Linked DNA regions of Homo sapiens. The protein of the gene in region 3 interacts with the protein of the main gene of each other region in a biochemical or structural test. Each region holds a gene or a part of one and is shown on either strand. Other genes may lie near its edges.

Region 1 (4,228 bases), on a different chromosome or scaffold from region 3:
ATGAGTATCACAATTTTTAAAGCAGGAATGTATATTGAGTTGTAAGTAATGATTAGCATAATTATTATAAATAAGTTTAAAGAAGAATACAAATGTTTTCCATAAATTTTGAAAGCTATGCCTTTTAAAACTTTCTAACATATAATTTATTTGAAAAAGAAAGTTGCCTTGCATAGTTGCTTTCAATCTCATCTCCTCGAAATGCTTTATTAATCACAAATATAAAAGAATAGTAGGATGTTTGATGAAATCTGCATATAAAGGAGGTAGACCATTAGGCTCTATGTCCCAATTAGAAAATTTTATAACCTAATTATTGATGTGTCTTAATTTTGACTCAACTTATTTCTTATACCTACAGGAGCTACTGCATATTTAATAACTGACCCCTAACACAGAATGATAATTGAAAAAAATAGAATGCTTCATTGCTTATAAACTGTGAACACTTGAAATAAAACTTTGATTCATTCTCTCTCTCTCTCCTCTCTGTCTCCCTCAGGTCGAGTTTTAGCTCAGGCAAGTGGCAATGGTGTTATCCATTTGCTAGATCTTAAATCTGGGGAGATTCACAAATTGATGGGCCACGAAAACGAGGCACACACGGTTGTGTTTTCTCACGACGGGGAGATTCTCTTTTCTGGAGGCTCTGACGGCACAGTTCGAACGTGGTCTTGACCGTCAGCACATCCCGCTGCAGAGGGCATTCCCTTTAAGGCTTGAAAATGCCTCCTGTAGTCCCAAACCAGCAAAGAACTGGTTAAATGTGCCAGCAGGTAACATTTACAGTCTGCTTTAAAACATGCTTTGGACATATATTTTAGTGCTCATACTGTTACTAATAAAAAAATAACTTTATGCTCACCCATTTGTGTCAGGGTCTTTTTTCTCTCTCATTTTGATAAGAATTTAGAGACACGGCATCTTTGCTAGGGGTTTTGAAAGAAACAGCTTTACAATGACGCCTAATGACAGACTAGATGAATTACAGGAGATTGATTTTTAATGTTAGAGAACAAACTGCAGGAAAACCTGGCTACTTTAAAAAAAAAAAAAAAAAATCAGATCCAAGCTGCAGGAAGACCTGAAGTTTAATCATGCAGCACCAGGGAAGTCTTTCTGCCACCAAAGGGTCAAATAGAATCGACAAGCATACGTTTTCACAGATTGTTTGACAATGATTATGCTTTATCTATTAATAATAATTGGGGACTGCAGATGGCTTAAATCTAAATGCAAGCCTCTTCTGGAACTTTCATCTCTGCAGCCCATCCAAGAACGCGTTAGGTATACAATTTTATACAAAAAAAATTAATTGCAATTTCAATGCAAATAAATATCTCGCACGTAGAATGTCTTTACCCCTCCTAATGCGCGCATCCGCTGTATAAAGTGCGACTGCTTGGAGAGCACTCTAGCCTCGTCTAAAGCAGCTCTGGGATTTCGACAGAGCTGGGCTCAGAAGCCAGTTGTTGGCGCTGTCCGTGGTGCTGAGGAATTCCCGGCTGCCGGCAGAATGAGCTCCAAATCAGCAATCTGCAAACTGCTCTTACTGATGCAGAAACCCAGCTAAAGTTGCTCCTTTCCTTCACATCCACAGTTAGTATTTTCCGGTGTGTAAGAGGGGATTCAAGCAACACACTGTGGACGATGGTGATGGTATTGCCAGCGGAGTGGGCTTTAAGCTACAGCATGCTGTTGCTGTTTGTGATCCTCAGAGCCTAGCCAAATCACCTCTACTGCCGTAGCAAACACTGTGTAAGTGAACTCATGTGTGGAGGAGGCGTAATCAGCCGGGAAATTTCATAGAAGGATCTAAGAAAATGCTAAAAATAAGTTCAACATGATTCTGCTACTGGGGTCTGGATTTCTACAGGACCAGCTTTGCTTCTTGCTTTGAATTCTGAAGACAGGTCCAAAGCAAATTTCTTATATGTGTCTGCTGTGTTTCTTTCTGGAAGGGCGGGAGACTGCTTCTTTACTGTGTTTTGAAATGGGAGGTAGAGAGAATGGATTGCCTTTAATTCATGCCTAAAAAATGTATTCTTTGGGTAATTAAAGAGGAACTGCTTTCTTAAAACATACCTGACCTTTTAGTTCATTTTGGGCTGTGACCCCTACCACCACCATTAACCTCCAGAGTGATTAGGTAAGTGTATCTTATGACATGAATTATGTTTGTTTTCTCAAAGAAATAGATGCAGTCATTTTAAATCATCTGTAGCAATATGGGGAGGGGGGGAAAATTAAGCTGGGAAGTGATCCTCAGTTTAGCAGTGTTTGCTTTCTTTTTAAAAATCTTCAGATAAACATTACATTTGATTTATCCCATGTTTCTTCTCTTAAATAGTATCTTAAATTGTACTAGGGCAGCTCAATTATGAAGGCTTTTTTTTAAAAAAAAAATAGCCTAAGAACTTTGTTATATTGAAAATAAAATCTTGTTTTTTACCATGCAGATTTTAAGATATATTTCATATAATAAAAACATATTTAATGTTTATATAAAGTAGATATTACATTCCTATTTTTACCTCTAAGTTTACATTTACCATAACCTAACACATTAATGCCTACCTGTGGCTTACAAAGAGATCATTTTCTGCCTATGTCCCTTTGAAGCAGAATCATATGTGTATTTTATATGGCTTATCTTGCATGCATTGACAGATATTGCTGGAATATTATAAGGAAGCACAGTAGCTTTCTTTTCCTCCAAGATAAACTTTCTAAATATGTGATGTATAAATGCTTGCTTTAATTAGTAAATTATATTTATGCTTTTTCAGAAGCTTCTGTTATGTTTGTTATCTCTGTAGTAATTTGAGAGAAAAAAATGCTTTGTCAAAGGGAGCTTCCAGATTCTCAAGTAGAATTATAGGTTTGCATTTTCTTGTTCTGTCATGACTTATTATTTTTGACATATTTTATAAGAAATCATCGGCTTTATTACCTACCCAAAGGGAATTCTAATATCAGAGGATATCAGAGTAATTCTGATATCAGCTTTCTCCAGAAAGAGGGCATACTACCTTCCATTTTACTATTACTAGAACTTGTATATCTACCTTAAAATGCAAATATAATAGTTTATGAAGTTTCCTAATGTCATCTTTATCTTGTTATCGTCTGTATATGTTAGACTGAAAAGAGATGGTTTATCATTGCTCTTAATATAATCTGAAAATAAACCAATGTATAACATTTATAACTGACCTGAAAATGTCCTGTATACCATCTTAGTGTTATTGGCATGAAGCCAATAGCATTTAAATAAAAAAATGAGCTATTTGACAATACTTTTTCTTATTTATTACTCCCTAAAGTCACAGTCTCCCCAGAGCCTCTGTGTGATTTAGTTATTCTAAATATTTAAATAAGAGCCCACTCCCAACACTTCACATCAAGCACCAATACTAAGTGGAGTTTACAAGAGTCAGTGTCACAAAATTAATAAGGCATATTTTCTATGAATGGTTAACACTTAATTACAGTTTTAAGCAACTTCCATAAAGAATTTTATGCTGGCATCTTTGTGCAGATTTTGTACATGTAAATATTTTTGACATTTCAAGAGTTATGTTTTCAAGATCTCATAAATTGTATTTATATTATATTGCAAATTTTAATTTAAATAATATTACATATATACTAGATTCAAGTTACTGTGAAGTAAATTTATAGATAGATCTTTCCTGCCCACTAGGAGCTTCCTTCCTATGTAAAATAATGTGGACAATAATACAAATAAATTTGTTTTTAACAAACTCTTTTAAGCACATGGAATTCTCTTGTATTATTTATTATTTCAAATTTTCTTTCTCTTAATCACTATGGAATAGTTATGTTGTTTTTGTTATCAACTTTATTTCAAAAATCCAGACTCACATTCACTTAAACAGGTAACTGATGTTGACGCCATTGTTGTTCTTTAATTATGGGCATAAATAAGTAGGAAATCCTTTATAGTAGCTCCTTCCTAAATATAATTTATATTCAACTGTTGGTTTATTCCCTTTCCTTTAGAATTAGATTTTTTTCTCACTAATCTCTTGAGTTGACACAGATAATTATAACATATGTTCCATCACTGACTAGTCCAGTTTAAAGAATAATAGAAAATGTGAGTTCAAATATTCTTGAGCTATTTGTAAGTTACTCCTTGGATCACATTTTGGGGCTCAGTAAAACCATTTCTTTGCAATTTAGATAAAGCCAGACCTATGAA
Region 2 (3,658 bases), on a different chromosome or scaffold from region 3:
ACAACACCATTCAAGCCAAAAGCCCAAGAGTCATCCTTGATTCTTTCCCTCTTGCTTCATATATCCCATCAGTTCTCACCAAAAGCCTGTTTTCTTCTATTTCCAATCTTGTCCCACCACAATACATCTTCACAGGCCAGCCAGGGATTTTTTTAAAAAGGCATAAATCAGATCATGCTACTGTTCTGTCAAAATCTTCCAATGGCTTCTTAATATACTCAATAAAATCTAAACTCTTTATCATATCTTCTAGGCCCTTTATGATTGTTCCCAATCTTCCTTCTTGGCTGTAGGTAAATTCACATAATAACCAATTCACTAAATAATTAATCAGCTCTATGAATTTCCCACTCCCCATATCCAATTGTAGTCATATTCTCCAAATGGTTAACCAGCTTATAAAAATGCTGACAATGACAAGGCATTATTTACTCAAATTCACAGTTCTTGTAGGCCAGATTATATATAAGTGCTTTGGGAACATAGAGCAAGGGAGCTATGAGAGTAGTATTGTCTGAAATCAGGGAAGGATTCTTAGAAGATATGAGTGTGAGGTTTGTCCTTCATGGATGCTTTGGTCAGAAATTAATATCAAGGGAAGGGGTGAGAAGGAACAACAAGGCAGAGACACATACATAGGATTAAAGAGATGACTGGCTTGACTGCCCGGCTAGCTGAACAGGAATAAATGATAGGCATGGAGACAAAGTGAAAGGAAGGCCTTAGGTTAGCCCAAGAAGTCCATATATTCTTTTAGACAACATAAGACCTCTATAGGCTCTTGCCTAGAATAAAAAATGTGTTTTTGGAAAATCATTCATTTTCAAATATGGGCCAAGCATTGTATTAGCCACTGGTGTATGGTAGTGAACAAAATAAATTGTTGTCATGGAGCCTTCGGTCTAATGAGAATGACAGACATAAAATGAGTAAATTCACAAATATATCATTTAAATTGTGATAAATATCATTAAGGAAAAGAAAGGGCGCTATGAAAGAACAAAGTTGAAACTACCTTAGACTGAAAGGCCATTGAAGGAATGACATTTAAACTGAGACCTAAAACTCAAAAAACTAGCCCAAAAAAGAACATTCCTGGTAGAGAGAGCAACATATAGAAAGACCATAATGGAAGAAAAAGATTTCTTTTTAATTATAAGGAAATACTCTATACATCTTTATTGTTAAATGCAACAAAATAGCATAAGAAAATATGAAACTCATTGATAAAGATAAGTGTATATACAAATACTGACTACTATATTACTAAAATGGTGGTGGTTGAATTCCATTTGATTCTAGCATAAAAGTTGAAAGACAAAAGTATTAAAATAACTATAATTTAAAATATGTTTATGGATACACAATATAAATAGATGTAAATTGTGACATCAAATAACATAGTGTGGTGAGAGAGAATTAAAAGTGTAGAGTTTTTGTATGTGATTGAAGTTAAGTTGTTATTACCTCAAAACAGACTTATAATTATAATTTTTTTTTTGAGACGGAGTCTCTCTCTGTCACCCAGACTCAGGTGCAGTGGCACAGATCTCGGCTCACTACAATCTCTGCCTCCTGGGTTCAAGTGATTCTCCTGCCTCATCCTCCCAAGTAGCTGGGACTACAGGCGCTCGCCACCACGCCCGGCTAATTTTTTGTATTTTTAGTAGAGACAGGGTTTCACCGTGTTAGCCAGGATGGTCTCGATCTCCTGACCTCGTGATCTGCCTGCCTCGGCCTCCCAAAGTGCTGGGATTACAGGTGTGAGCCACTGCGCCTGGCCAATTATAAAATATTTTATGTAAGCCTCATGGTAACCACAATGGAAATACCTATAGCAGTTTACACAAAAGAGAAAGGAATCAAAGCATATCGGAAAAAAAAAGAAGAAGAAGAAGAAAAAGAAAAACACAACCAACAAAACACAAAGGAAGACAAGGCAGGGGGGAAAAGCACCAAAGAACTAATTACAAGACAACTAGAAACAATAAGCTAAACGGCAATAGTAAATTCTTCCCTATCAATAATTACTTTACATGTAAATGGATTAAACTCTCCAATCAAAAGACTTAGGGTAGCAGAAAGAAAAAAAAACAATATATAACTATATGATTTCTACAAATGACTTACTTAACATTTAAGGACACACACAAGCTGAAAGTAAAGAAATGAAAAAAGATACTCCATGCATATGGTAACTAAAAGAAAGCAGAGTGGACTATTTCATATCTGACAAAATAGACTATAAGTAGAAAACTGTCACAAGAGACAAAGAAGAAAGTATAATGATGAAAGGGTCAACCCACCAGGAAGCTATAACAATTATAAATATATACACACTCAATATCAGAGCACATATATATATATAAAACAAATATTGACAGAACTAAAATGAGAAATAGCAACACAATAATAGTAGGAAACTGCAATACTCCACTTTTAGTAATGGTTAGAATAACCAGACAGAAAATCAACAAAGAAAGAGTGGACTTCAACACCAGTGTAGACCAAATGGACCTAACAGACATATACAGAATGTTCAGTTAAACAGCAGAAGAATATACATTCTTCTCAAGTACATACAGAAAATTCTCCATGATAGATCACATATTAGGTCACTTAAACCATGACCTACAAAAAGCCCATTGGAAGATATCATTTATATATGCTGGATTGTGATGCACTGTAACACTGCAATGTCTTAGTCCATTAAATCTGAAAATATATAAAATGAGGTAGATCTCATTTTAGTCTTTTCTTTCACTAATGTTTGGAGGTAGGAATTAAATTGGATATTGATAATTCTAAGGAAATATATAGCCAAAGCCAAAAATGGCTAACTCAAATTAGAATGTGAGACAAAGAAACTCTGAAACTCTTAGGAGTATGAAGAAATACTTTGTTTCTAATCTAAAGGGAAAAAAGCAATAAATGTATTTATTTAAAAATCCATTATCTTATCTAAAATGACTTACCTTTAAAAGATACCTAATCACTAAAAACTTTATACCAAAAATGTCCATTGCACAATATTGCTTTCTTTTTTTTTTTTTTCGAGACGGAGTCTCGCTCTGTCATGCAGGGTGGAGTGCAGTGGCTTGATCTCTGCTCACTGCAACCTCTGTCTCCCAGGTTCAAGCCATTGTCATGCCTCAGCCTCCCAAGTAGCTGGGATTACAGGCGCATGCCACCATGCCTGGCTACTTTTTGTATTTTTAGTAGAGACAGGGTTTTGCCATGTTGGGCAGGCTGGTTTCAAACTCCTGACCTCAGGTGATCTGCCGGGTTTGGCCTCCCAAAGTGCTGGGATTACAGGTGTGAGCCACCACGTCTGGCTATTCCACAATATTGTTTTCTTTCCAAGTACAATGTCCTCCATCTGTTTTCCCTCTTTCCAAGGAAGGAAAGATACTTTGGCACCTGTTAACAAGATAAAATCTGAATGGCTCTGGATTCTAATCCTGGTTCCTCCACTATTTTGCTATTCTTCCTTTACTACAATAGTCTCCATTTTCTTCACATCTAATGTAGAAACCAGAGAAGTCTAATTAGATAGATATTTAATATTCTATACTTCTATGCAAATCCTGTACTTGAAAAATTATCTCCTGGAAGAGAAATTAGAATTGTTGGTATGACTTCAGGGTTCAAACTAGGA
Region 3 (3,658 bases):
GTGTGGTGGTAGGCGCTTGTAATCCCAGCTACTTGGGAGGCAGCTATCCTGAGGCAGGATAGGCCTGCCTCAGCTATCCTGAGATAGGCGCTCGTAATCCCAGCTATCCTGAGGCAGGATAATTGCTTGCACCCAGGAGGCGGATACTGCAGTGAGCCAAGATCATGCCATTGCACTCCAGCCTGGGCGACAAGTGGAAAACTTTGTCTCAAACAAAACAAAACTATATTTAACTTATTAATATCCAAAATATTTTAACATGTAACCATTATAAAATATTTTAAATTCTTAAAGTCTCAAAATCTACTGTGCATTTTATATTTACAGCACATTTCAAATCATACTAGCCAGATTTTGAGTCCTTAACAGTTACATATGGCTGGCGGCTGCTATTGTCAACAACAAATCTACATACTATACATATTTAATGGTACAAAATAAAAGAAACTTAAACATGAAATGTTAAGGCTAACATTGTGTTTGTTTTTTGAAATGCCCTACCCCACCAGTAGAGTGGCACTTTTCTTCCAGTGAAGTTCATTTGGATCTCCTGCCATGTCCACATTTATTTGTAGTGATTTTTTTTCTCATTTGTCCTAATGGCTGATTACTACTTCTAAAAATATTTACTAAAGTTCTCTCACTAAACAGAACTTCAAATGCTTTGAAAGTGTATAAAAAAGTCATTTATTGAATTTACTTTTTGCTACAGCTATGATCCATGGCAAACATTGGATATATGAAGAAATAGTTAACTCCTCCATGTACTTCTCACATGAATATCACTAATACGAGCCGTCATTGAATGAGTTTTAAATGGTAAGTCTCATCTTTGATTATGCATTGTAGGTTCTTTCTCTGGCAAGTGTGTCAACCTTGTGACCTTGTTTTCATTAGTTTACACTCTTGTGACAAGTAAAATATAAGCCCCCATATGGACATTGACAACAACTGCTTTTCCATTTCCTTAATAATTAAAGAAAAATGCATTGAAAAGCTTTTAAGATCATTATCTAAAATATCATTGAAGATTATGTCCTAATTATACCCAGCAACTACCATGGACAATGACTGCAACATAGTTGATATTTGCAGAGCTTTTTTTCTGTCCTCCCAAAAGAAACATTCTAAATGTATACCAATACTTTCATTTTAAGTCTTTTCAAACTTACTGAAGAAGGTAAAGAGGATGCACTTCTAAATTACGATGAAAACACATTAGAACCTTACTGTTTTATTACTTTCTTTTCGCTAGTGCCATAAGCAAGAATCTCTCTCACAGGGATCATCCCCTGCTCTGTCCAAATTCCCTCTTTTCCTAGTTTGTATCAGCCCTATTTTCCCCATAGATATTTTTAACATCATGCCTGATGCTCATGCATTTCTATTATTGTCAATGAATCTTCTTTTTAAAGATTTTTCTCCTTAAAGAATCCTTTACTAGGATTAACACAGTATATTTATCTCTGCATCTAAGGACTAAGTATTCCGCTTATACAACTACTAGCATTGGTAGTATTGAGGACTTGAAAATTTATTTCCAGAAATGCTTTACTTAGAAAATAGCTTATTTGCCCACTCCTATGGCTCAAAACCCTGCAAAGCCTTGGCCAGGTGTGGTGGCTCAAGCCTGTAATCCCAGCACTTTGGGAGGCCGAGGGGGGCGGATCACAAGGTCAAGAGATCAAGACCATCCTGGCCAACATGGTGAAACCGTCTCTACTAAAAATACAAAAATTAGCTGGGTGTGGTGGCACATGCCTGTAGTCCCAACTACTCATGAGATTGAGGTAGGAGAATCACTTGAACCCCAGGAGGCAGAGGTTGCAGTGAGCCGAGATCGCACCACTGCACTCCAGCCTGGCAACAGAGCCAGACTATGTCTCAAAAAAAAAAAAAAAAAAAAACAAAAGAAAACCCCTGCAAATCCAACAGTGTTTTTGCTGTTTTTTTTGTTTGCTTTTTTTGTTTATCATTTCCTACAAGGCAATGATAGAATCAAGTACGCATACGAAGTCAATAATCATACCTTTGGCAAAGTAAACATTCTCTGTACTTCATTTTTACTTAAGTGTCTTTATCTTTGTTATATCATTTTCCTATGGGATATTCCCTAATTTTCTAAACTTCATGCTTTTGTTTCCTAGTAGTTGAAAGCTTGCCTCTGGATATTAATTACTTCATGGTATTCGATTCCCACCACTTTTTTTTTTTTTTTTTTTTTTGAGACAGGGTCTCACACTATTGCCCAGGCTAGAGTGCAGAGGCACAATTATAGCTCACTGCAGCCTCCACCTCCTGGAATCAAGTGATCCTCCTGCCTCAGCCTCCCAAGTAGCCGGAACTAAAAGCGTGTGCCAGCACACCCAGCTAATATTTGTATTTTTTTTGTAGAGATGGGATTTTGCTATGTTGCCCAGGCTGGTCTCAACCTCCGGGGCACAAGTAGTCTACCTGCCTTGGTCTCCCAAAGTGCTGGGATTATAGACATGAGCCACTGTGACCAGCCTCCCATTGCTTTTTAAAAATCTTAATTCTTAAACTAATAGGCATATCTGTACTTTGCTTTTCCTGAAGGAGAATAAGCCTGATCTAACCATACCTTAAATCTAAGTTTATGAATGCTCATTTTTTACATATATTTTTCACAGTTAAGAAGACATCTGACTTTGTTATTGTTTTCTCTCTCATTCTGACCACCTTATCCAAAAATGGATGGTTCTGTCTTGCAACTTTATTCTATCTCAGCTATAAGCCTTGCTTAGATATGTTTTCTATTTTGTAATTAGCTTTTTTTAATTCTTTCAATTCTAACTTATCTGTATACTATTTATAAAATATTTGAAATGTAACTAAAGTGTTTTGTGTTGTTGTTTGTTTTTTACCATTTACTTCTGTTGCCAGGATGGCAGTAAAGTTTTTACAAAGCAAACATTTCTCTGAATCATGCAGTAAGGGCTAATTTTTTATGATTAATCTTTACAAATCCCATCACATTGAACAGACCTTTAGCCTATATACAAATAGTGACTCTGAATTTTGTTGTGGGGATATAAAGGCAAGTAAACACACACCCTCAACTTTCAGAACACTGTCAGTACAACGGTGGATTTGTGGGAAAGGGAGGTGGATTAACTGTGATGACCACAAAACAAATATTCTTACCTGTACCATTAATCATGTCGCAGTGACTTTCCCAATAGGACAGATTCCTAGGAATAGAAAAAGACAATGAATAAACATTCTTATTTAAAGAATACCTTTCTTACATTACTTTTTCTATTATAATTCAATACTTCTGTTAATATGATGCATTTAAATGTGACAAGTACTAAGTTTAAGAAATGTTCAATTCTGTTTATGTTTTGTTTGAACCTTTTATCTTATTGCAATGTACCTGATGCCATTAGGTAGCCAGATCATAAAATAAAAACTGCCAGGTGTTAATTAGAAACATCTTGGAATAAGAAAAAAATTAAAAACATTTATCAGAAACTTAGATCTCTACTTAGGGGAAATTTTTTTTTTTCCAATGGGATACATGAATTACTCAGTAGTATAAGTGTTCAGAATGAATAGAAGGAAAGTGTTAAGTGGGTAACTGATATAAGCTAAGTACAAGGCAGGCAGAAGAGAGAAGCAGGGAAGAGGAAAGAAG

The links.
Region 1: the proteins of CD36 (region 3) and VWC2L form a complex in vitro, tested with the Homo sapiens proteins (one large-scale study listed by BioGRID).
Region 2: the proteins of CD36 (region 3) and SCRG1 form a complex in vitro, tested with the Homo sapiens proteins (one large-scale study listed by BioGRID).

The regions. Positions count from the first base shown.
Region 1 is NC_000002.12:214,409,638-214,413,865, forward strand, and holds the start of VWC2L (von Willebrand factor C domain-containing protein 2-like isoform 1 precursor), read left to right. Parts: upstream 1-1,416; 5' UTR 1,417-2,149; intron 2,150-4,228. Other genes in the region: SPAG16 (sperm-associated antigen 16 protein), read left to right, coding at 503-678.
Region 2 is NC_000004.12:173,392,488-173,396,145, reverse strand, and holds part of SCRG1 (scrapie-responsive protein 1 precursor), read left to right. Parts: intron 1-2,975; exon of another isoform or gene 2,976-3,089; intron 3,090-3,658.
Region 3 is NC_000007.14:80,665,997-80,669,654, reverse strand, and holds part of CD36 (platelet glycoprotein 4), read right to left. Parts: intron 3,213-3,658; coding exon 3,166-3,212; intron 1-3,165.